Regions from separate parts of the Homo sapiens genome. Here all the other regions are linked to region 5. Evidence: fine-mapped expression QTL. A gene starts in region 5. Each other region holds a variant in brackets. All regions are shown on one strand. Distances are between the middles of the regions.

Evidence for each region.
Region 1: its variant is fine-mapped to the expression of ENTPD5 in memory regulatory T cells (Schmiedel 2018, PIP 0.95). The same link has a PIP of 0.9 or more in naive CD8 T cells.
Region 2: its variant is fine-mapped to the expression of ENTPD5 in uterus (GTEx, PIP 0.96).
Region 3: its variant is fine-mapped to the expression of ENTPD5 in pancreas (GTEx, PIP 0.98).
Region 4: its variant is fine-mapped to the expression of ENTPD5 in whole blood (INTERVAL, PIP above 0.99).

Annotation. Positions count from the first base shown.
Region 1 is chr14:74,084,899-74,089,989 of GRCh38, reverse strand. LIN52 (lin-52 DREAM MuvB core complex component) reads right to left here and starts at 5,034. Exons shown (of 6, transcript NM_001024674.3): 1 at 4,997-5,034. The coding sequence starts at 5,015. RefSeq lists enhancers at 3,916-4,005, 4,946-5,091. The variant TG/G (reference allele first, on the strand shown) is at 2,576.
Region 2 is chr14:73,829,144-73,834,245 of GRCh38, reverse strand. It overlaps LINC02274 (long intergenic non-protein coding RNA 2274), which reads left to right and starts at 4,111. Exons shown (of 2, transcript NR_135238.1): 1 at 4,111-4,350. The variant C/T (reference allele first, on the strand shown) is at 2,966.
Region 3 is chr14:74,217,802-74,222,903 of GRCh38, reverse strand. No RefSeq gene overlaps it. Among named protein-coding and RNA genes, the nearest start is that of VSX2, 19 kb to the left of the region's middle. The variant A/G (reference allele first, on the strand shown) is at 2,878.
Region 4 is chr14:74,938,280-74,943,381 of GRCh38, reverse strand. It overlaps PGF (placental growth factor), which reads left to right. Exons shown (of 7, transcript NM_002632.6): 7 at 649-1,548. The coding sequence ends at 676. LOC107984690 (a long non-coding RNA gene) reads right to left here and starts at 653. Exons shown (of 3, transcript XR_001750826.3): 1 at 1-653. The variant CTGTGTG/G (reference allele first, on the strand shown) is at 2,821.
Region 5 is chr14:74,016,838-74,021,939 of GRCh38, reverse strand. ENTPD5 (ectonucleoside triphosphate diphosphohydrolase 5 (inactive)) reads left to right here and starts at 2,652. Exons shown (of 16, transcript NM_001249.5): 1 at 2,652-2,690. BBOF1 (basal body orientation factor 1) reads right to left here and starts at 2,591. Exons shown (of 12, transcript NM_025057.3): 1 at 2,406-2,591. The coding sequence starts at 2,461. RefSeq lists enhancers at 1-134, 1-194 and silencers at 2,475-2,724, 2,755-2,824, 2,835-2,974, 3,015-3,084, 3,000-3,294.

The sequences.
Region 1 (5,091 bases), 68 kb before region 5:
CTTTGGGAGTCACAGGCACCCACCCCTAGATGCTACCGTGGGGCTGGAGCCCAAAAGTGCTCGCCCTGACTCCTACACCTGCCCATCTGCGTGCTCCCTCTCCCATAAGAGGATTGAGTGCACACAGACAAGCCACACCCCTGTCGTATGTCCTGCGGTTAGGGAACTCCCCTATTTCAACATGAGGACTTTTATCTTCATCTGTATGCCAATGACTCCATATTTATATTTCCATTCCCAACCTTTCTAAAGAACTACAAAGGTTTATGTCCAAGTGGTTATTTGAATCCCTCTCTATTTACATATAAAAAAACTGCTTAAGGCCAGATGCAGTGGTGCACGCCTGTAATCCCAGCAGTTTTGGGAGGCCGAGGTGGGTGGATTGCTTGAGCTCACGAGTTTGAGACCAGCCTGGCCAACATAGTGAAAACCCATCTCTACAAAAAGCAAAAAAATTAGCCAGGTGTGGTGGTGTCAGCCTGTAGTCCCAGCTACTTGGGAGGCTGAGGTGGAAGGATGGCTTGAGCCCAGAGGTGGCAGCTGCAGTTAGCTAAGGTCACACCACTGCACTCCAGCCTGGGTGATAGAGCCACATCCTGTCTCAAAAAAAAAAAAAAAATCCCCACTTAAACTTTAAACCTAATTATCTTCAAAACCATATTCCCCCAATCTTCTCCCATCTCAAGAAATAACACTACCATAAATTCCAATTCTCAGATCAAAAACCCAGATGTCATCCTTCATGCATTCTTTTCCTTCACCCTTCCATAACCAATCCATGAGTAAATCTAGTCGTTTCTACCTTCAGAATACACCCTGAAATCAAATAACCCAAGGAACCATCACTTCTTTCTTGGACTACTTCAACAGCCTCTTAACAGATCTCTCTGCTCCCATTCTTACCCTTTCCCCTTCACACCCCCGGAATCTATTCTCCATAAAGAGGCCAGAATTGATTTTTTTAAACGTCAATCAGTTCGTGTCTCTCTCCAGCTTAAAGTTCCTCCCAGCTAAATCTGTGAATGTGTATCTACCACACTCTATAAAATCTTACTCAGCCTCTACCTAATTCTTTGACATCATTTCTCTTCCACTCTTCCCTTGCACACAGTAGTACTCAATATTAACATTTGTTGAGTTTTTATTGTATGCTCAGTATGCTAACCAGTTGCATAACTAGTTCATTTAATGCTATAAACAGCAGTTCTTAACATTTTCTGGGTAACCACATCTCTGGAAATCTGGGAAATAAAATGAACTCACTCCCCAGAAAATATACATACGTACAAAATGTACTTTTCTCTAAACTGAATTTGTTTTGCCAAATATTCCAAAGGAATTTCCAATGGCATTTTAATTGTAAAGAACTCAACTAATACATTGCCTTAATTAAAGCATCCAAAAATTAGCTTCTCTTTGTTACCGATTTCTGAGGAATGTTCAACCATAACAAAAGTAAAGTTATTGGGCCAGGTACAGTGGCTCATGTCTGGAATCCCAGTGCTTTGGGAAGCCGAGGCAGGAAGATTGCTTGAGCCCAGGAGTTTGAGACCATCCTGGGCAACATAGTGAGACTCCATCTCTACAAAAAATAATAAGGTGGGGGCATGGTGGCTCACGCCTGTAATCCTAGCACTTTGGGAGGCCGAGGTGAGTGCATCACCTGAGGTCAGGAGTTCAAGACTAGCCTGGGCAACATGGTGAAACCCCGTCTCTACTCAAAATACAAAAATTAGCCAGGTGTGGTGGCGTGTGCCTGTTATCCCAGCTACTGGAGAGGCTGATGCATGAGAATTACTTGAACCCAGGAGGCGGAGGTTGCAGTGACCCGAGATCATGCCACAGCACTCCAGCCTGGGTGACAGAGTGAGACTCCGTCTCAAAACAAAATAAATAATAATAATAATAAATTAGCTGGGCATGGTGGTGTGAGCCTATAGTACCAGCTACTTAGGAGGCTGAGATGGGAGAATCGCTTGAGCCTTTGAGGGTGCAGTGAGCTATAATCATATCACTGCATTTCAGCATGGGCAATAGAGTGAGAGAGACCCTGTCTCTAAAAGAAAGTTAAAAAAAAATTATTGGGGGTACAATCTAATAACCTACATGGGTGACCTTATGATACCACAGTCTGGGATAGAACTCAGACTCTGCTGTGAGTCTTACTCTCATAAATTAAGTAATTAGATGGCTGTATTTGAATTTCAGTTTTCTCCTTTTCAAAGACGCTCCAGCAAATTTATCACGAAAAAGACAAAAGAGTAAATGACAAACATATTAAAATAAATATTATCTGAATTAAATTTTAAAGACAGTGACAGGTGGAACACTAAAAATAGAAGTGAAAGAGCTAGGCCGTGGAATATTTTGGAATGAGATACTTATTTAGAAGCTGAATTTAAGTTCAAAGTGCTTGACTTGATTTTTTCAGATTAAAAAGAAAACATTAGGTGGAGAGGAGTGAAACTTTGTAAGAGATGAGAATGAAAACTTAAAAATCAAGAGTGCAAATAAAGTGACCATAGAGATGGCTAGAAAAGGAAAAAAATTTAATTTTTTTTTTTTTTTTTTTTTT[TG/G]CAATGGAGTCTCGCTCTGTCCCAGGCTGGAGTGCAGTGGCGTGATCTCGGCTCACTGCAAGCTCTGCCTCCCGGGTTCACGCCATTCTCCTGCCTCAGCCTCCTGAGTAGCTGGGACTACAGGCACCCACCACCACGCCTGGCTAATTTTTTGTATTTTTTAGTAGAGACAGGGTTTCACTGTGTTAGCCAGGATGGTCTCGATCTCCTGACCTCGTGATCCACCCATCTCGCCCTCCCAAAGTGCTGGGATTACAGGCGTGAGCCACCACGCCAAGCCAAATTTAATGTTTTTAATACTCTTCCTGGCCAAAGAAAGGAAACTAAATTGAGAGATGACAGGGGAAAAAAATCAAACTCAAGGAACACATCTCTAAAATCCCCAAAGTTTGTAAAAACAATTTAAAAATAAACTAAAAAGTTTAATAACAATTACTTCTACTTGTATTACTTGGCTTTTTTTTTCAACTGTGGTGAAATATACATAAATTTTACCATTTTAATAACTTTTAAGTATACATTTCAGTGGTATTAAGTACATTAATTGTGCAATCATCACATTCATTTCCAGAATTCTTTCACCTTCCCAAACTGAAATTTGGTACCCATTAACAATAACTCCCTATTCCCTTGCCTGACTTTTTAAATGCCCTTCTTTCTGGCAAGAGAAGGACATTTTTGCAAGAGCGCACCCAGGCAGGAGAATCTCTTTTGACTCCAAACATCCATAATTTCTTTTTTTTTCCTTCTTTTTTTTCTGAGACGGGGTCTCGCTTTGTCACACAGACTGGAGTGCAGTGGCATGAACATGGTTCACTGCCGCCTCCACCCCCTGGGCTCAAGAGATTCTCTTGCCTCAGCCCCCCCAAGTAGCTGGGACTACAGGTTTGTGGCATCACACCCAGATAATTTTTGTATTTTTTTGTAGAGATGGGGTTTCACCATGTTGTCTAGGCTGGTCTTCAATTCCTGAGCTCAGGCGATCTGCCTGCCTCAGCCTCCCAAAGTGCTGGGATTAGAAGTGTGAACCACCACGCCCAGCCATAATTTCTAATACAGTATGTACCTGCGCTCACAAAATTTAAGACTCGGTTAAACTTAAAACTTAAGATCAAGTAATATATTATTTCTGCATATATCTAATCAATCTTTCAATAAATGTTAATTAAAGACCTACTGTTCGTCAGGCACTGTGCTAAACCTGGATCCAACTATGAACAAGACAAACTTGGAATTTACAATCTAGCGCAAAAGGGGCAAAGTTAACAGAGTAACTATGCTGACAAGGAAGATACTGAGATAATGAATAATGGTGGGAAAGGGCAACTCCAGATACTGTGTTCTAAGAAAGACTCTTTGGGAGGTGACATCTAAAAAGAGAACTGAAACTGAAAAAAAAAAATGTTTATATGTTTGAGTCATCTTTTGGTCTCCCAAAGCACCTAGCATTATGCCTTTCATGTAGCAGGTACTTAATATAGCTCACCTTGGCTTCAATTTCTTCATTCCTGCAATGAACTTCCAAGATTCCTTCCAAATATAAAATGTTTTTGTCTAAGGGAAGGAAACCTATATATCAATAAAATCGATATATAGTTGGGATGAGGATGGTAGAACTAAAAATGAGTTTAAAAATGACTGCAAGACCCTAACTCTCTAAAGCAGAACCAAGAGGAAAAGCATGGGAGTATACCAAAACAACTTAATTGTTACTTGAAATGACTTGCATTTTACACAATATATAAACAGAAATCGTTAATTCACTCAGCCTTAAGAAACAACACGTAAAGCAGATGGAAGACAGGTTGCGACCTGTGCAAGACGACACTTAAAAGCTCAATACTGATTCTCCTCGCGACTCTCAGGGCGAGGGGCCGAGAACGTCCCCCGCTTCTCTTGCTGCCACGGCAATGGTCCCAAACTGAGGAGACAGGAGAGAGATCATGTTTCTCTTGCGGTTCAGTATCGAGATGAGGTCAGCCAGCAGCCCTGCGAGGGTTTGTGAGAATCATTCCATCCGTGCGCTCAATCAGAAGAGAACTGATCCTTTCAATGGGTACCCCAAGGAAAAAACTACAGTAAGCCACGTCCTCCAGAAACATCTCCTCCTCGACCCTCAGCCTCGCCCAAATAGAGATAAGGAAGGCACAGGGCGACCCCCCTGTCCTTTTACCCAGAATGAGTCCCTCCCTAGTGCCCTCCTCCACACGCCTGGTACAGAGCGGGGAAACTGGGCACCTCCGGAGCTGCTGTGAAGAACCGGTGAGCTGAAGACGGCGATGGATCTCAAGAAAAAAAATAAAAGGGAAAGGAGAAGAGCCCAAGAAAGAAATGTATGTTCGAGGGGCAGAGACAGAGTGGATGTTCCCAGTAGAGCAAAGAAGGAGGCTGCAGGCAAAGATCTCTAAGCCGGCTCTTACCGTCTGTGGGAGACGCCATCTTCCAACCCATGTCACGTGACGTGGCCAACCGTCGGCGGGAAAACGAGGTTCCATAAGCCACGCCCCCAAAGAGA
Region 2 (5,102 bases), 190 kb after region 5:
CCTCCTCTCAGGGAGAATTAGCATAGGATAATAGGAACGGACTATTAGAAACAACTCAGTTACCCCTCACTTCCTGCTGGGAGCCAGTCCCTTATTCAGATAGGTATTTTAGGCAGGGTTGCTAATGACCTCCAAGCCCATTAGTGACATTCTTTATGTTTGCTTCACATGCTGATGCAGGTGATGTGACTGCCCCTGGCAAGATGGGAACTCCTCTCTCTGCCCTGGCACAGCTGCCTTAATGTTCTTAGGTAGCCTCTACTATTGTGTTCTAGACTTAAAATCCAGGCTAGTAAAAAGGGCGTCAGAAATTGGCCGACCATGCAGTCCTTTCCTATTTTGTTCTTTTCTGCACTGATGTATAAGTAAAAGTTTACGTGGTTGACACAGCGCCCAAACTCCATTTTCTTTGCTAATGGAAGAGAGTAGAGGGGAAGAAAACACAAAACAGGCTCTGTGTGCACAGCACACACACTGTCATTCTCACAGGGGCCTCCCTGGCTTCCTGGGCAGCTTGCCTCTTGAGGGGAGAGCAGGGCCCCTGGTCGTGGTGCCAGGAATTCCTAGTTGCGTCAGAAAGGGCAACCGCTGCCCATGAAGGCTGAGCAAATTCCCCGAGGCACCCAAACAGTGGGCAAAGGAATTCAGAGGTGGTGGGCCCCTGCTGCCTCCACCCCTCCTACTTATAAAAACACAGGCAACAAGCCATCAAAAAGACACTTTCAACCAGCAAAGCCCTAATATCCAAAATGCATACTCCAATGAATCAATATGAAAAAAAAAAGCAACCCACTAGAAAAAAATAGACACTTCACAAAAGAGGAAAAATATATTTAAAAGACGCTCAACTTCATTAATTAGCAGGAAAATGCAACTTAAAACAACAATAAGATGTCTTTATGCCTGATGATATCAAATGATGAAGAGGATGTGTAACAATGGGAACTCATACATGGCTGGGGAGGGAATACATTGGATTCAGTCACTTGGAAAACTATTTGGCAGTATCTAGCACAGTTGATTATTCACAGATGCTATGTGCCATTTGTCCCAAAAACCTGACCACTTCTCTTCCAGGTCTCCCAGAACCTTATCTGGATTAGCTATACAAACAAATGAGGTCTGGATTGAGGAGCTGGCATTCCTTTCCTTCCTTCCTTTCTTCTCTCCCTCCTTCTTTCTCCCTTTTCTTCCTTACTTTCTTTCTTTTTACCTTTTGCCTTCCCTCCTCTTCTTTCTTCCTTTATTTTTGCTTTTCAAAATAGTAAAATACAACATACATATAGAAAAATACATATAGAAAAATGCATAGAAAACTTTGAGCACTTTGGGAGGCCTAGCTGGGTGGATCACCTGAGGTCAGGAGTTTGAGACCAGCCTGGCCAACATGGTGAAACCCTGTCTCTACTAAAAATACAAAAAAGTTAGCCAGGCATGGTGGTGCACACCTGTAGTCCCAGCTACTCGGGAGGCTGAGGCAGGAGAATTGCTTGAACCCTGGAGACAGAGGTTGCGTGAGCTGAGATGGAGCTACTGCACTCAAGCCTGGGTGACAGAGCGAGACTCTGTCTCAAAAAAAAAGAGAAAAAAGAAAAACGAATAGAATATCTTTGGACAGTTTAAAAAATAATTACAAAGCAGCCCCCTGTGTAACCAACACTCAAGTCAAGAAATAATAATGGCCAAACATGGTGGCTTATACCTGTAATCCCAGCACAATGGGAAGCTGAGGCCAGAGGACTGCTTGAGCCCAGAAGTTCAAGACTGGGCAACAAAGTGATGTCCCGTCTCTATGAAAAATTTTAAAATTAGCTGGGCATGGTGGCACGTGCCTATAGTCCTAGCTACTTGGGGGGCTAAGGTGAGAGGATCACTTGAGCCCAGAAGGTTGAGGCTACAATGACTTGTGATTGTGCCATTGCACGCAAGCCTGGGTAACAGAGCAAGACTCTGTCTCAAAAATAAAATAAAATAAAATAAAATAAATAGTAATAATCAGCACCCAAGAAGTTCCCTGTGCATCCCCTGAGTGATCACAACCATCTCCCTCCTATCAGAATTACTATTATACTAACTTTCATGATGTTAATTCCTTCTTGTTCTTTATAATCTACCACCTGTATTTGAATTTTATATGTGTGGATTCCCACTGTGCACATTCTTCTGTATCATGCTTCTTTCCCTCAATGTTATGTTTGTGGGATTCAAACAACTAACTCACTGGTTGTCACCGTAGCTCACTCATTTTCATTGCTGTATTGTATGAATCCACTACGATGCATCTCTTTCATTCTTTTTCTACTTTTTTTGAGACGTAGTCTCTCTCTGTCACCCAGGCTGGAGTGCAGTGGCACGATCTTGGCTCACTGCAACCTCCGCCTCCCGAGTTCAAGCAATTCTCTGCCTCAGCCTCCCAAGTAGCTGGGATTACAGGCACCTGCCACCATGCCCAGCTCATTTTTTTTTTTTGTATTTTTAGTAGAGACAGGGTTTCACCCTCTGGGCCAGGCTGGTCTTGAACTCATGACCTCGTGGTCCACCCACCTCAGCCTCCCAAAGTGCTGGGATTGGTGGCAGGCGCCTGTAGTCCCAGCTACTGCGGGGGCTGAGGCAGGAGAATCACTTGAACCCGGGAGGCGGAGGTTGCAGTGAGCTGAGATTGCGCCACTGCACTCCAGCCTGGTGACAGAGCGAGACTCCGTCTCAAAAAAAAAAAAAAAAAAAAAATAGATAGGATTGTTTCTGTTTTGAGCCTATTATGAACAATGCTGCCAAGAACATTCTTGCACCTAAATCCTGATACCCTTGTGCAAGAGCTTTTGTAAGGTGATGGCATCAGGGGGCTTCCCTTTAATCAGGGCTTAGTGCATTCACGCTTTTCCCCTGTCTCCTCTTCCAAAACCACCTCTCAGGAAAGGATTAGAAGTTCACTCATGTTAAGGTATAAATGGCTGAGAAGGATTAA[C/T]ATGTAGTCTCTCCCATATAACTGTGAGGTGGGGACAAAGGAATTAATTTCTAATTGTAGAATTTTAGTATCATGCCGGGCGCGGTGGCTCACGCCTATAATCTCGGCACTTTGGGAGGCCGAAGCGGGCGGATCACAAGGTCAGGAGATTGAGACCATCCTGGCTAACACAGTGAAACTCCGTCTCTACTAAAAATACAAAAAAATTAGCTTAGTGTGGTGGCGGGTGCCTGTAGTCCCAGCTACTTGGGAGGCTGAGGCAGGAGAATGGCGTGATCCCAGGAGGCGGAGCTTGCGGTGAGCCGAGATTGGCCACTGCACTCCAGCCTGGGCGACAGAGCAAGACTCCGTCTTAAAAAAAAAAAAAGAAAAAAAAAGAATTTTAGTATCAAGAGATTGGTGGAGAGAAATCCATTAAGTTAGCCCTAAAAAAAGCATCACATGGTTGTAATACCATGAACCAAGAAAATGAAAAAGAAAAAATCCATATAGACAACAACAACAAACCAGCCAAGGTGCTATACTCTACTTGAAAGGTCAAAACCCACATACAAGAAACGAAGTCCCGCTGGGCACAGTGGCTCATGCCTGTAATCCCAGCACTTTGGGAGGCTGAGGTGGGTATATCATCTGAGGTCAGGAGTTCGAGACCAGCCTGACCAACATGGTGATACCCCATCTCTACTAAATATACAAAATTAGCTGGGCGGGTGGTGCGTGCCTGTAATCCCAGCTACTTGAGAGGCTGAGGCAGGAGAATCGCTTGAACCTGGGAGGCAGAGGTTACAGTGAGCCAAGATCACACCATTGCACTCCAGCCTGGGCAATAAGAGCTAAACTTCGTCTCAAAAAAAAAAAAAAAAAAAAAAGAAGAAGGAGAAGAAATGAGGTCCTGTCTCCGAGGATCAGTTGGTAGTTAATGGCTAAGCTAACTGGTGATAGAGTGGTCAAAAGTAAGTCCTCAAGGCCAGATACCTGCACTTGAACCTCAGCTCCATCAGCTAGATGAGTCACGTTCTCCCAGCCGCAGTTCCTCTTCTGAGAAATCGACATAATGAGAGTACTGACCTCATCAGGCTGTTGTGAAAATAAAATAATGACTGAATCACATTTCACACAGCGCTTTCCGTTTAGTAAGTGCTCAAATAGTATTGGGCATCCTTCTTATTTGTGTTATTTGATGCTGAGTGTGAGCACTTTCTCTGTGTCAGGGTAAGCCAATGATCTGAGTAGGGCTTGATAATGCCATTGGAGAGTCTGACAAGATCAAAGTGTAAATGGGAGAGAAGAGGAAAAGAAGGAAAGAAATGAGAGCCACATATCTACTGGCAAAAGGAAAAGTGCAAAATTTCCAAGGGCAGGCTGCTGAAGGCCTGCCAGAGCGGGTAAGTGGAGAGGCTGGGCCAGAGAGGCAGAGGGGCTGCTCACCTAGATCAGGCCCAAGAAGCGGTTTGAGTGGGTCTCACTGTGTCAGGATAGAGAGGTCAGGTGTAGTCAATACATGAATAGGAAGGTGCAGGGCAAGAAGTAGGTCAGACAACAGCAAAGGTGTGCATGCCCACAGGATTGCTGTAGATCAACTGGAACTGAGGCCTGTGGCTTGTGATGCAGCTGTGGCTAACAGCTCCTATGCATGCTGATGGCTTCACGTCTCAAGCACCAGTGGAGTCTCTCAGCTTTTCTGCTTCAGAATTTTCTCCTCAGCTTGGAAGCTTGCTCAGTCCAACTTGCAGATACAGCCACAGAAGAAAGGGGCGGGAGCTGGGTAGTAGGGGAGTGGGAGAGTGCCAATGGAAGATGAAGGTTGCTGGATAAATGTCCCAACCTCTCACACTTCAGCAGGACAATTTTGGGTGGTTTCTATATGGTTCTTCAAAAGTGTGCAGGGAGATTGAGCCAATTGTCCACAGTGACAACCCAGCTCAGTAATGTATCTTTCATTGGCTTTCCGTCCTTCCTGTATCACTCTCCTCTCTCCCTCCCCGTCTTCCTTGGATATCTTCCCAAGTAAACTATTGTCACCCAAGTTCTTGTCTCAGGGTCTGCTTTAGGAGGCACCAAACCTAAGTTGTTTTATTACTAACACAAATCTGAAGCTGAGATTCCAAAAACTGAAACAAAAACTAACTTAAATAGA
Region 3 (5,102 bases), 200 kb before region 5:
ATTTATCTTTAATATTTTAATGGCAGCTGGGATTAGTGGGCAAACAGCCCCGACTGGGGTTGTTCACGGCGGATTAAGTTCTGATCAACTCTCAGATGGGGAGCCCCCACCCCCACCCCACTCCACTTTCTGTTTTCCACAAAGTGCTTTTTATTATTTTTTGTTGAAAAAAAAATTCCCTTGTCTTTTGGAGCATCATAAATTCCATTTGCTGTTTTCTATTAAATCAAGTTGATTAAATTCGTTGTGACTCTTTGCACATAGATCTTTTTAATTTTAACGTCTCCAGCATAAAATCTTTAATGGTGCCATTTGAAATTGCTGCAATATACAGTACAGGCCCTGAGAAAACAGATGGAAATGAGGTTCTGCCAGGGATGGGGGAGGTCCTATCAGGAGGGGTACAGTTGGGAGAAGGCACAGACCTCCAGGTGAAGGCAGGGGACTGACTCTTCCTGAGGTCCAGAGAGCCCCACGTTCTCCATTCAGCTATTTTCTAGCTTCAGGGCTTTGGCTAGGAACTTGGCCCATGCTATGGAGGGCTTGCTATGTGCCTGGCACTGTGTATGCATCGCCAGTCATCCTTACAAGGAGGCTCAGAGAGAGGTCACTTGCTCAAGGTCACGTAGCAAGTCGGTGGCAGTGGTTGAGTCCAGATTGTCTTTGCCAATAAAGCCTCATCTCCCCTTTCATCAGTAAAATGGGGGTGATCGGTTCCGCCCTGGGTCACAGGTGCTTGGAAAGATTGGATGAGGTCCACAAACTGCTTTGGGAACAGTACAGAGCTGTGCTCTCCTGGGGGGATGGAGGAGTGGGGCTGACCCATTTGGGCCTCAGAGGCTCTGCTATCACTGGGTAGAGCTGCCTTTTGAGACCCTGGGAACCTTCACTAACTCCAGGGTCTCGGCTTCCCCCCGCCCCTCAGCTCTCCAGCTCTCCGGCCTCCGGCCTCAGGCTTTTTCTCCCCGTCTCTAATCCTGACCTCATCAAGTCCTGGGAAGAGGGTTGATCCACAGGAGCAAATCCCTCATTCAGAGGGGCAAAATCAGCTTAATTTGCAGCAATTTGAAGCAGGTCTTTGCCAGGATTTGAATATCAAATTATCCCACAGCCTGGGCTGGTCTGGGAGGCCTCCCCCGGCTGCAATATGGACCGATGTGCTCAGGCTTCACCAGGGAGATTGTCCTGGGAGTGACTGAAGCTGAGGCTGTGGAGATGGGAGTGAGTGTCAGAGGGTAGTGGGCAAGGTGGGGGTCACCAGTCAGCCCCCACTGCCAGAGGGCACTGCAGCAGTGACTGAGGGACAGATGGAGTTTGGGGTCAAAACCTCCTGTTCTTGAGACTCACCGGGGGCTCTTGTCAAATGTGCGGATTCCCAGGCCCTTCTACAAACATAAGAAATCAAGATTTTCTTGACTAAGAAAGTTTAGAAAAATCCGGTGCAGCTCAGTTAGCCAATCAACAAACACTTGCTGTGCACAATCTGTACTGCCTCTCATTTTGAGAGAATCAGCCTCCTCTGGTGCCCACCCTGTTCATTCCCAGCCTCTGGTACTGTGGACAATATTTCCTTGGCTGTCTGCTCCATGATGGCCCCTGAGGCCTGAGTCAGCGGCTGCAGAGAGCTCTTCAGCCTTCCCTTCCTGGTCTGCATGCCCAACTCCTCTGGCCACCCGGCCCTTTCATTCCTTTTCTGCAAGCTCAGGCCTAGCAGACATCCTCTTATGTCAGTCACACAGGCCTCGCTGCCCAGACCTGAGCCCCGGGGCTCAGACCCCTCTCATGGGCATGTCATGAGCTGTGAGCCTCTTCAGGAAGGCCCGAGGTTGGTGAAACATTCTGGTCCCGCCACAGTGTTGTGTCCCTGTGGGCCCTGCAGTGTAAAAGTAGCAGCCAGGGATGTTGGGATGGCTTTGCGCAGGCCCACTGTCCAGCCAGCACCATCAACAGAGATGAGAGGCTCTCGGTGTGACAAGCATTATAAGAGCCACAAGTGCTTCCATTTAATTCTCACAAAATCCTATGGAGTAGGTACTATTATTATATACACCCATTGTATAGATGAGGAAACTGAGGCACAGAGAAATTAGTAACATGCCCCACCCAGGTCATACAGCAATAAGAGGTGGACCTGGGATGCATACGCAGGCAGTCTGACTCCAAACTGCTCCTCTTAACCACTTTGTTCTGTCTCCATCTATCCACCTTTACCTAAAATTTTGTCCTTCTCTATATTCTCCACAGCAATGACTTGCCTTATTTTTAAAGGCATAATCACAGTGTGTTTGGGGAGCAAAGAAAGGAGCGCATAACCTACACTAGGGCAATCACAGAGGCTTTTTGGAGGTGGTGTCTTTATTTGTTCAATGATGTGGTAGAGCAACCACTGTGTGCCCAACACTGGTGATACAGACATGAAGAAGCCATGGAGCTCACAAACGGGGGCCTGAACACCCCATCGGCAGTGCTCAGTGCACTGATGGAGAAAACACAGGGCATCGTAGAAACACTGGGGACACCCCAAAGCCCAGGAGATCAGGGAAGACTTCCTGGAGGAGAGGCACTAGTCCCCTTCACTAGATCTAGTCATTAACCTGAGGTTCAGATGGCCCAGAGGTCCCACTGGGCACACTCACCCTTCTTTGTCTCAGCCAGTCCATCCTCCGTGGACCGTCTGGACCAACCAAGCTTGAGACCCTCTCTGACCACCTGTCCTAGACAGGTAGACCCCCTCAGGGGAAGTCTGTGTTCCCTACTGCTATGTGTTCTTAGAGGCGGGGCCTGAGCAGGAACGAAACTCCTGAACCCCAGATCCTATGCCTAGCAGGGTCTGGTGTAAGTCATTGGCTGCCTTGGGAAAGCCCAGTGGTTTGATTC[A/G]AGGATGACTAGAATTTAGAGCAAAAAGGGACCCCAGAAGCCACCCAAACCTGTTTTGAAGGAAGCCACAGGAGATGCCCACGCCCCACAGCTCAGAGATGCTGCAAATTCCAGCCTCCCAGTGCCCTATCTTCTCTCTGGGGTGGTCTAGCCCCACCTGGCACTCCCCCAGTCTTTGTCCCCGTGTCTGCCTTGCCTGATGGTGGCCAGGGGGCCTTTCCGGAATAACGATGGTATTGGCTCAGATTAAGGGCAACTAGCTGGCTCTTGGCTTTTCATTTTTATATAACAACTAATCTCCTTCTAATCAGCCATTATTAAATTATATTCCATTTTTAATTCATTCACAGATCACCGTTGGGACAGCTGGATGGATAATTGGAGAGAGATAATTTATGTAAATGAGGAGCAGCAGAAGGTGGGGGAGAGGGAGGCCCAGGGCGCCAAACGGAGCCCCCTCTGTGTCCAGGCTGGGGAGGGGGCAGTGGCCTGGCTCCTCCTGGAAACCCGCGCCTGGGGATGCTGGGAGGATTGGGGGCTGCCATGGGACCTCAGGGCTCCTGACCGGTGGTTCCTGGTGTGGCCCCTCAGCATCACCTTGAACACTTTTGGCAAATGGGAAGCTCACTACTTTGGGGGCGGAGTGGCTCTCAGACATCAGCTCCCCCTTTTAGAAGCAGATCCTGAGAGGCAGAATGCCCCAGAAAATTCTGGAGTCAGAGCTGTTTTTGATTCCAACTCCACCACTGTGTGCCGTTTCCTAACCTTAGTTCCCACGTCTGCAAAACGCAGGTAATGACAGTATCTACCTCATAGAGTGCTGTGAAGCTTAAGTGCCTGGCACCTAAGGAAGAGACCAAGACAAGTACATGGTGGCTCTTATCACCCTTATAGGACAGTGTGTATCTTTCAGAATCTTCCTCTCTAACATCTGCCTTCTGGCCATGGAGCTTCCTTCTGGTAACACACAAAAGAAATCCACTTCCTTTGCATATCTGAAGACAGCTCTGTACCACTGATAATAACACTCCGGAGGCTTGTGTCTCATTGTGTCCTCCGTGTCTCATAGTGTCTCATTGTATCCTCGGAACGACTATAGAAATTGGGGGCGATTGCGTCCATTTTACAGATGAATATACTGTGGACCCAAGCTCTCTCCTGCCAATTCCTTCAACAAAAACGATAACAAGCCCCAGAAGCCTGCTTAGAAAGGAACACGAGGCTCAGAAAACCTGGATCCCAGCCGGAGGCTATTTTGGGAAGGTGCCTTGGGGACTGGCAGGCAGGGTCAGGGATGGCAGGGAAGGTGGGTGAGAGAGGTTGGACCTCCACCCTTCTTGGCTGTCCCTTTGGGGCCCCAAGAATCAGGCACGATGGGCATTCATGGGCACAGGTGGTCTGACAGAGCTTGAGGGGCAAGGTCTGCCTGTGCCTGGGGCTGGCATGGGCTGGCAGGGAGGCCCTTGGACCATTCCCAGAGGGAGACAGGGGATTAAGGGGGGTTAGGGAGGTGGTCCCAGAGGGTCCATGCAGAGTAATGGGATTAGCTCTTGGGCAGTGAGTGAAAGTTATTATCGTGTGGGGCCTCTGGCCTCCCACCCAAGGCTGCAGCTGTCACCCATCCTGGGAGGCACCAACAGCCCCCTCCACCCCCACCTTGGGGCAGGCTGGCACCTCTTCTCCCCACAGGCTTTTCTGCTGTGGTCATCTGCCTAGGGGCTGGCCGCCTAGCTTTAGCCTCCTGTCGGTCCTTGGCAGACTGGGCCACCCACACAGTATGCTCTAGACTTGCTCTGTGCCTCGGTTTCCCCTTGAACAGAAAGATACAAGAAGGTGCTTGAGATCCTCTGAGGCATGGGGGTTCGGAGCCAGGCCCCCTGGGTTTCCGGCTCTGCCACGCATTCGCTGTGTGACCCTAGGTACATCTGTCAGCCTCTCTGTGTCCTAATTGGTAAAATGGGGGCAGTAGCAGAGCAGCGTTAGGGTTTTCATAGCGGAGGGCTGGGTAGGGAGCATAGGGTCGGCCTGTTGGTGCTGGGCACCTCCTAGAGGTCGGGGCCGCGGAGGGCTGCGGGCCTAGGGCCTAATGACAAGAAGGGACCAGTCTTGTCGGAGCCTCGCAGCCCCTGCGAGGCGGGTGAAAGGCAGCGCCTGAGCGAAGCCGCAAGCGGGAGACTTCGGAGACGCTCCCGGCTCCCTCTAGCGGTGGCCGCGCGAGTGGCGCG
Region 4 (5,102 bases), 920 kb before region 5:
ACCTACATCAATATCTCAAATTGTTCTTTTTTTCATGTCCTCAGAATACTTTTACCTGGCAGCAAAGCACTTTATGAGGATTTAGAATGAGCAAGATGTGTTGTGGCCAGAGAAGCAGATCTCAGCCACTGCCTCACAAAAATAATTTTAAGGCAATGTAGACCTGGAGGCTGAAAATGGATTTCTTTAAAACCGTCAGTACTCAGGCCTCACGTGCGTCTAGCGGTACTCCCCTGTTTGGAGACTGCTGTCTTAGGGTAATCAGAGGCATGATTGCATGGAGTGTGATTAGGTTCAAATGTGGCTCTGTCACCGACTGGCCGTGTGACCACAGGCAAGCTTCTTCACCTCTCTGGGCCTCAGTTTCCTAATCTTCACAAGAATAATCAGGGTGCCTTCCTCATGGAAGGTTGTTGAGGGTTAAGAAGACAGTGCTTGGCACAGGGCTGGGCACATGGGTAAGTGTTTGGTGAAGGGTAGCTCCCAGCTTCTCCTCAGCTTGAAGCAAGCAGGGACCCAGGAGCACTGCGCCCTCCCCATGCTCCCTGCCCAAGCTCCTCCTCTGGGCCTGCCCCCTCCTCCATAGGAGGAGACCGCACCCTCCACAGTGTGCTGATACCCGCCCCGTCTGTGCTTGGTCTCTGGCAGGTGCGGCGATGCTGTTCCCCGGAGGTAACCCACCCCTTGGAGGAGAGAGACCCCGCACCCGGCTCGTGTATTTATTACCGTCACACTCTTCAGTGACTCCTGCTGGTACCTGCCCTCTATTTATTAGCCAACTGTTTCCCTGCTGAATGCCTCGCTCCCTTCAAGACGAGGGGCAGGGAAGGACAGGACCCTCAGGAATTCAGTGCCTTCAACAACGTGAGAGAAAGAGAGAAGCCAGCCACAGACCCCTGGGAGCTTCCGCTTTGAAAGAAGCAAGACACGTGGCCTCGTGAGGGGCAAGCTAGGCCCCAGAGGCCCTGGAGGTCTCCAGGGGCCTGCAGAAGGAAAGAAGGGGGCCCTGCTACCTGTTCTTGGGCCTCAGGCTCTGCACAGACAAGCAGCCCTTGCTTTCGGAGCTCCTGTCCAAAGTAGGGATGCGGATCCTGCTGGGGCCGCCACGGCCTGGCTGGTGGGAAGGCCGGCAGCGGGCGGAGGGGATCCAGCCACTTCCCCCTCTTCTTCTGAAGATCAGAACATTCAGCTCTGGAGAACAGTGGTTGCCTGGGGGCTTTTGCCACTCCTTGTCCCCCGTGATCTCCCCTCACACTTTGCCATTTGCTTGTACTGGGACATTGTTCTTTCCGGCCAAGGTGCCACCACCCTGCCCCCCCTAAGAGACACATACAGAGTGGGCCCCGGGCTGGAGAAAGAGCTGCCTGGATGAGAAACAGCTCAGCCAGTGGGGATGAGGTCACCAGGGGAGGAGCCTGTGCGTCCCAGCTGAAGGCAGTGGCAGGGGAGCAGGTTCCCCAAGGGCCCTGGCACCCCCACAAGCTGTCCCTGCAGGGCCATCTGACTGCCAAGCCAGATTCTCTTGAATAAAGTATTCTAGTGTGGAAACGCTGATCTAGTGGGTGTGTCTTCCGGGGCAGTGAGCGTCAGCCGGGAACGGAAGCCAGACAGACCCAGGGATCGGGGTGTAACAGGAAGAGCACAGCACCTTCTCCGAGCCTCAGTTTCCTTATCTCAAAAGCCTCGCTCAGTCGACGAGAGGGCATGTCACAGCTCACGACAACATGTTAGCTTGCTCCTTCCTTCCTCCTTTTGACAGCTGAGGACACTTAGGCCCAAGAAGGTGAAATGGCTGATGGAGAGTTAAGAGCACTGAAGCGGGGGTCAGAGGCCTGGCTTTGTCTATAACTCACCGAGTGGCACTGGGCTTCCCTCTGCCTTCACGTTTCATCTCTGACCTGAGGGGCCTGGCTAGATGGCTCTTCTGGCTTTGACACATTTCTACTGGGGCCCAGGCTCAAGTCTCGGTGGCCCTGGGTGGTCACTGGAGACTGTTCCTGTGGAGGCCACTTCAAGGCTGCCCCGGAGGTCGCCCAACCTGCTTCTACAGCACCCTGGGGTCGCCCCTTCCCTAACGAGGAGCTCCCAAGATGTAGTTTTGTTTCCAAAGTTGAGGAGAGGCTGGTCCCAGCCACTTTTTAACAGCATCAAGAGCACAATCTCCTCCTCTCCCAGGGCTTAGGGCTGCCCCAGCCCAGTGCCGCAAGGACTCCCGAACTCCTCCGGCCCTCCTGATAGACATCCTGGGCTGGGTCTCAGGGCGCTGAACGGCAGCACGTATAGCCTGCTCGGGCTGCTGAACAGACGCAAGGACCAGCAGATGCTGCCCGGATTTCTCTGCCTTTTACCCCCCAGTTCCTTCCGTCTTCCTCCTCAGTGCTTTGGCAGGAAAAAAATAAATCTTCTTATTATTTTTTAATGGTTTTTTTTTTGAGACGGAGTCTCCTTCTGTCGCCCAGGCTGGAGTGCAGTGCCACAATCTCGGCTCACTGCAACCTCCACCTCCCAGGTTCAAGCGATTCTCCTGCCTCAGCCTTCTGAGTAGCTGGGATTACAGGCGTGCGCCACCATGCCCGGCTAATTTTTGTATTTTTAGTAGAGACAGGGTTTCACCATGTTGACCAAGCTGGTCTTGAACTCCTGACCTCAAGTGATCCACCCGCCTCAGCCTCCCAAAGTGCTGGGATGACAGGCATGAGCCACCATGCCAGGCCTATTTTTTTTTTAATCCAAACCACTTACTATCAAACTCCACTCTGCTTCTGACCTGCAAGGGGTGTGTGTGTGTGTGTGTGTGTGTGTGTGTGTGTGTGTGTGTGT[CTGTGTG/G]TCTGTGTCTTTGATGTTATATGCTGCTATATGTATTGGGGGAAGAGAAGTTCCCCCATTCTCTCCTCAGCCTCACTTCCTCATTTGAGGCTGCTGAGGAGAAACCCACAGGGACCCAGGGGCACAGGGGCCTGCCTGGGGCTTTGAGGGGAGCTGGGGATGTCCAGCGGAGTGGGGTGGCCCTGCTGAGGCAGCTGTCCTTGGTGCCCTGTTCACCGAGGCCTGGGGACTCTGCAGGACACGCTGGTCAGAATGTGCTTCTGGCTGTGGTCATAGACGGGTGTGAGTCAGCCCCAGGAGACATACTTTGCCAAAGAAATGCACTTCCTCTCCTGCCTCTCCTCTCTTTAGCTGCAGCTGTTCTGAGCTGTTGCCTTTGACCCACTGTGAACTGGGAAGAGCACCCATCCCCTCCCACTGGCCAGGCCTCTAGCTCAGCCCTGAGGACCCCAACCCAGGCCCGGTAGCATCTTCAAGGCTTTTGGCTCCATAAGGTCACCCACATGGCGGGCAGCCTCCCGACCCAGGCCAGTGACCCCTGTAGAGAGCAAGACAGAAACCAGAAAAGCTCCTGGAAGCCAGAAGCAAAACTCCACATCCGTGGGCAGGAGCCTCGCAGCAGGAATGGGTAGGAAGGAGCCAGCTGGCCTACTTGACTATATTGGCAGCCGTTCCAGCCATTTAGGTCCTAGAGGGATTTGCTTGTCATCTATTTGTGGAGCACCCTCTGTGTCCTAGACACTGACTAGGCATCCAGGATCCAGTGGGGACAGACACACAGGACCCTGCTCTCGTGGACCACACATGCGAGGGGAGAGACAGCCCATGCTCTAGTGCCAGAGGGTACTGGGTGGGCCTTTTCTGCTGCTCGAATGGGTGGCCGGACTCAGAGCTAAGGAAAAAGGGCCTTGAGTACCCCATATTCTAAAACAAAGGAACCATTTGAGACTAGGCCCATTTGCCTACAGGATTTATTAAGAGATGGTTAAAGCAATTCTGCTATGCCCCCAAATCTCCCAGCACCCCCTTCCTCAGTCTCCATAAGCAGAAGACCAGGACAGGGGAAGGAAGAGAGAGGGAGATGGGTCACTGGAGTCCTGGGGTGCTGACTCCCTCCCCTCCTCTCCCTGGATCTGGATTTGCTGTTGAGATCAGCCCACGCGCCATCTGGACAGGGAGGTTGGGGGAGGGCAGGATTGAAGAGGCAGAGACAGACAGGGCAGGGACTCCTTGGGGCACCCAGCAGTCGTTGCCCATGGGTCAGGTGGACATGGCGGAAGGTGCATGTCCTTGAGCTGTCTTGTCCATGTCCTCCCAAGAGGGAGGCCTGCAGCTGTGCAGACCCACAGTCGGTAGGCTGTTGGGTGGAGGTTGGGGCAGTGGCTGAGTGGTGGGGTGAGAGATATAGAGCTGAAGGGACCTCTCACATCAGGGAACAGTGGTGCGAGGTGGCCCTGTGGTGAACCCACAAGAGAGTTAGCATCTGAACGCCATCATGCCGGGAACATTCATAGCCAGAGAAGAAATGGCCACAGCTGACAGGGACTTTCCTGAAAGCTCTCCCTCCCCATCTGTGTGAAAGAAGAGAAAAGGGGAGAGAAAAGGAGGAGGAGAGAGAGAGAGGAGTGGGGGTACAGGGGCAAACTACACCCCTCCCCACTCCCCTGGGCCAAATCCAGACCCTGCCTGGGGAAGGGAAATGGTTAGTCTTGGTTAGATGGACCAGCCTAGATGGGGCTGGGCCTTTAATAAGCTAAAGCAACAGGAATACTAGAAGATCTGCCCAAGATACTGTTACGGGACAGAAAAAGGAGAACCAACATAGTTCATCTAGAAGCAATGATGGAAGGGGGAAAAAAACTTGCTCAATAAGCAAGTTACCCATATAAACAAATACATTAATAAGAAAATGTCTTGCTGCCAAAATGCGTTCTCTCATATTAGAGATGCTCTTGAATTATTTTACATTCCTCCTCTTAAGAGGTGAAGTGTCTTCCCTCTGTTTGAATCTGAATTGGCCTGGGTCTGCGTTGATCAGTAGACTATAGCAGAAGAGACCCTATACTTGTTTCAAGTCTAGCTTTCAAGAGGACTGGCAGCTTCTGCCTTGGTCTGTTGGAACCCTATGCTATCATGTAAGATGTCCAACTACCCTGAGGTCACCATGTTGGAAGGAAGCTCAAGCTGGCCGTATAGAGATGTGGAAAAAGAGAGAGAGAGAGAGACTCAGCCAACCCCAAGCTATTCCAACCCGCAGCCATTACAGTTATCTTAGC
Region 5 (5,102 bases):
ACTTTTGAGTGTGTTTTTTTTTTTTCTGGGGGAGGGACGGAGTCTCACTCTTTCACCCAGGCTGAAGAGCAGTGGCGTGATCTCGGCTCACTGCAAGCTCCGCCTCCCAGGTTCATGCCATTCTCCTGCCTCAGCCTCCCGAGTAGCTGGGACTACAGGAGCCCGCCACCAGGCCCGGCTAATTTTTTGTATTTTCAGTAGAGACGGGGTTTCACCGTGTTAGCCAGGATGGTGTTTTTGTTTTGTTTTGTTTTGGGCTAGGTCTTGGACAAAAAGTCAAGTCACTAGGGCAAATACGTTAAATAGTTTATCAGCTGGTGCCACAGTTCACCGGACTTTTTTTTTTTTTTTGAAACAAGATCTTGCTCTGTCATCCAGGCTGTAGTGCAGTAGCACCATCACAGCTCACTGCAGCCTCAACCTCCCAGGCCCAAACGATCCTCCACCTCAGCCTCCTAAGTAACTGTGACTACAGGCATGAGTTAGCATGCCCAACTAATTTTTAATAAAAATTTTTGTAGAGACAGGGTCTTCCTATGTTGTTCAGGCTGGTCTTGAACTCCTGGGCTCAAGTGATCTTCCCCTGCTCAGCCTCCCAAAGTGCTGGGCATGAGCCACGATGCCCCACCCACCGGGCTTTAAGGATGCCTGAGAAACCATAATCATTTATATAGAGGTGGAGAGGAAAAAGGATGGATTCAAAGATTAAAGTGGTAAAGGAAGAGATTTTTCTAAATATTTATTGTATAAGCATTAACAAAACACTCCCCCTTATATATGGTAGGTACCATGATATATAAATATGTACATATTTAAGAATATTTCACCTGTATTTGAATTCTAAATATTTTCACACATATGTACATGTGGACCTTTCTATACTGCCACCCTCCACATCCACTTTCCTACCTCTGGTTCTCAGTCCTCTTCCACAGAGGTAATGGGTTTGCAGTGGAGAGAACCAAAGTCCCACTTTCACCTTTTGTTCTCTTCAAATTAAGGCCAGCTCCATTCCCAACCCCTCAGCCTGTTATAGCTGTTGATGTCCCTTTCTGGCATGATTTAGGCACTAGTGATACACTGTCTCACTACGACCATCCAGGTATCAGGTCTGAGTGGCTCGAAGTACTTGATGCGACAGGGCATGGTGGCTCACGGCTGTCATCCCAGCACTTTGGGAGGCCGAGGCGGGTGGATCACCTGAAGTCAGGAGTTCGAGACCAGCCTGGCCAACATGGTGAAACCCTGTCTCCACTAAAAATAAAAAAATTAGCTGGGCGTGGTGACGGGTGCCTGTAATCACAGCTACTCGGGAGGCTGAGGCAGGAGAATTGGTTGAACCCAGAAGGCAGAGGTTGCAGTGAGCTGAGATCGTGCCATTGCACTCCGGCTTGGGCAACAAGAGCAAAACTTGGTGTCAAGAAAAAAAAAAAAGTACTTGATGCAAGAAATTAGACACTCTAATAGGACCACTGATACTCACTGTAGAAACAAAGCCAGGTTTCTCAAACAATGGGTCATGGAAAATCCAAGGAATAAGGTCTCTTACCCTTAGTGTTCCTCATTGTTCAAATGTGTACTGTAGAAGCATGGTCAAAATCTGAAAACATATGTTAGTGAGTTCTAGGAATGTGATAAGCCCTTGGCACTTTAAGGGCTAGACTAACTGTGCAGTTATGTAAAAACAAAAAAAAAATACCATAAAAGAATACTTACATTAACAAATGGGAAGAAAAAAGCCACATATAAGTATGTACATTGGGCTATCGTTTTATTAAAAAAGAATACTCCAAAATATAGTAGTGTTTATTTTTGGATAATGAGACTACAGGTGATTTTTGTTTTTTCTTTTGGTACTTCCCATGTTTCCCAAACTTTCTGTATTGAGCATGAATTACTCTCTTAAGTTACTTTACAAACATCTCAAGTTTGGTGCCAACTCTGTGTTCCCATATATGGTGTTGTTGCTGGACACCACGTATGACTCCAACGTGTCCAGAAACCACCGGGGTCCCCCAATAGGGCTAGTAGCAATCTAGCAGCAACTCCAGGCCTGTAAGGGGTTAGTGCTAGAACATTACCCACCTCAGTGGCTCTGATCAGTTTGGGAAAACCTCAATAATTATCCAACTTGGTAAAATACTTTAGGTGTCCCCTTTGAACCAAAAGAGATCTCTGAAAAGGCCCAAGGAACTACTTTATACATCCTCTACACGTTTAAGATAATCTGAACACATAGTAGAGATCTGCCAGACTATGGACATGGGAGCTGTAATCCTCACAAGCCGGGAGAGCCGGGGAGAGGGTCCGAGTGGGCCGGCGCGGGGGGCGCCAGGTTGCCAGCCCCAGACCCGAAATCCCAGGCAGGCCCAGGGAGAGGGGACTCTCGGGTGGCTTCTCCTTACTTCGTGTCTTTGCCTTTGCTCTTGCCTTTCTTTTTGTCCTTTCCCTTCGACGGCATCTTGGCTTCCCCAGGGGCTCCGCTGTCGTAGTTGCCCAGCCGCGGCCGCCCTGGCCAGCTCTGTCTCCAAGGGAACCGGGACGCCGAGCTGGCAATGCCCCACCCGCGCCGCTGACGGCGCGCGGAGAGCGCACGCGCCCGTGACGTAGCCCAGGCGCCGCGGCGCGCGGGGTGGGGCGGAGGTCGCGCCGAGGGCGGCGGGCTGCCGCGCAAGGGTGGCGCGCGCGCGGTGAGTGTGCGAGTGTCGGCGGCGCCGGATCCTCTACGTGGGGCCCGGGCTCTGCGGGCGGGAGGCGGGAGCTGGCAGCCCCAGGCGGTAGCGCTTCGTCCTGCGGCCTGGGTGTGTCAGGAGTCGCTGCGGTCGGGGCGCCCTTGCCTCAGGAGACTTAGATCCCCGCTGATCCGCCCGTCCCGCCGCAGTGGTCTGAGCCGCAGCCCTTTCCCGTGCCGCCCGCGGGTCCCGTTCCTCCCGTGTCTCCATGCCGCAGCCAGCGTGGCCGCGGCTACCTTGCCCTCGCCCCCGCTCCGCTTCTGCCGCTCCCGGCACTGCCTTACTCCTTTGGGTTGCATCTCTTTCCTGGCTTTTCACCCTTGCTGATTCTGTAAGGGATAGTGCAGCCAGCGGACGTCCCAGGCCAAATGTTTTTTGATAGGCAGTCGAGGACTTTCCCGAGGGCGGTGGTTGAGGGCGAGGCTGCCAGCCTCCGAAGAGCAGCGGCACGCCAGGGAGCCGGGCGGGGAGGGGAGTGCTGCCACCGAGGTCGGGAGCAGGGTCCTCGGCCTCACTAGGTCCTGTGTGGCCGATACTTCCTGCCCACGACCGCCCCCCGGATTTCCATTTGCTAATACCGGTCCGCAGCCTTCTTTCCTGAAAGTTGCATAAAGTTGGAAGCTCTTCAACTTGCCTCCCCGACTCCTGAAATCCCGAATACACCTCTGAAAAGGAGTGTACTCACAAGTATTCTCATTTTTCAATGAGAGTCAGTCAGTGAGTCATTAAGGAAGGTACGGTATTCTGAGTGCCAAGCCAATAGTTAGGAGACTTGTGGTTGAAGCTCTGCTCTGTTATACTCCATTTCAAATTAAAAAGTTTATTTTAAATGTGGTTGTAGATCCTTCGTCACCATTTCTCTAGGGAGGACTTAATCCGTACACTCCTTCCCGATGTCTTTGACCTCTAATTACTCCCCTCCGCCTTGTTTCCCACTTGCATAGTTTCTGTTTCTGAATTTCTGTTTCTTCTGAGGGAACATGCCGATTTGGTAATGATAAGCCTTGTAAACTTTTTTTTTTTTTTTTCTGAGAGAGAGTCTTCTGTCACCCAGGCTGGAGTGCAGTGGGGCATCTCGGCTCCCTGCAACCTCCACCTCCTTGGTTCAAGCGATTCTCCTGCCTCAGCCTCCCCAGTAAGTGGGACTACAGGTGCATGCCACCACACCCGGCTAATTTTTGTATTTTTGGTAGAGATGGAGTTTCACCATGCTGGCCAGGCTGGTCTCGAACTCCTGGCCTCAGGTGATCCACCTGCCTCGGCCTCCCAAAGTGTTGAGATTACAGGCGTGGGCCACCGCCCCGGCTGTAAACCTTTTTTTTGAGACAAGAGTTTTGCTCTTGTTGCCTAGGCTGGAGTGCAATGGCGCAATCTCGGCTCACCACAACCTCTGCCTCCCGGGTTCAAGCAATTCTCCTGCCTCAGCCTCCCCAGTAACAGACTATAGGTGCGTGCCACCATGCCAGGCTAATTTTTGTATTTTTGGTAGAGACAGAGTTTCACCATGCTAGCCAGGCTGGTCTTGAACTCCTGGCCTCAGGTGATCCACCCGCCTTGGTCTCCCAAAGTGTTGAGATTTACAGGCATGAGCCACCGCCCCCGGCTGTAAAATTTTTTTTTTTTTTTTTTGAGACAGAGTTTTGCTCTTGTTGCCCAGGCTGGAGTGCAATGGCACGATCTCGGCTCACCGCAACCTCCACCTCCCAGTTCAAGCGATTCTCCTGCCTCAGCCTCCCGAGTAGCTGGGATTACAGGCACACACCACCATCCCTGGCTAATTTTGTATTTTTAGTAGAGACAGGGTTTCTCCATGTTGGTCAGGCTGGCGTAAACCTTATTATACATACCATCTGCCAGCATGATCATGGCTTTTTCTTTTCTTTTTTTTTGAGATGGAGTTTCGCTCTTGTTTCCCAGGCTGGAGTGCAATAGCACGATCTCGGCCCACCGCAGCCTCCACCTCCCAGGTTCAAGCAATTCTCCTGCCTCAGCCTCCCGAGTAGCTGGGAATCCAGGCATGCGCCACCATGCCCGGCTACTTTTGTAATTTTAGTAGACACGGGGTTTCTCCATTTTGGTCAGGCTAGTCTCGAACTTCCAACCTCAGGTGATCCGCCCGCCTCGGCCTACCAAAGTACTGGGATTACAGGCGTGAGCCACCACGCCTGGCCGATCATAGCTTTTTCTGAGTGTATTTCTGGTATACTTTCACACTCCCGTGAGTCCATAGGCGGAATCGCCATATATTGAAGAGTTTATCTCTGATGTAAAATCTATAAAGTTACCATTAATTTTGTATGTGTAAGGTTCTGAAAAAGCACACTGTTGATAAGCTGCAGAAAAGAGAGTAGGGCATCTTCTGTCACAGGC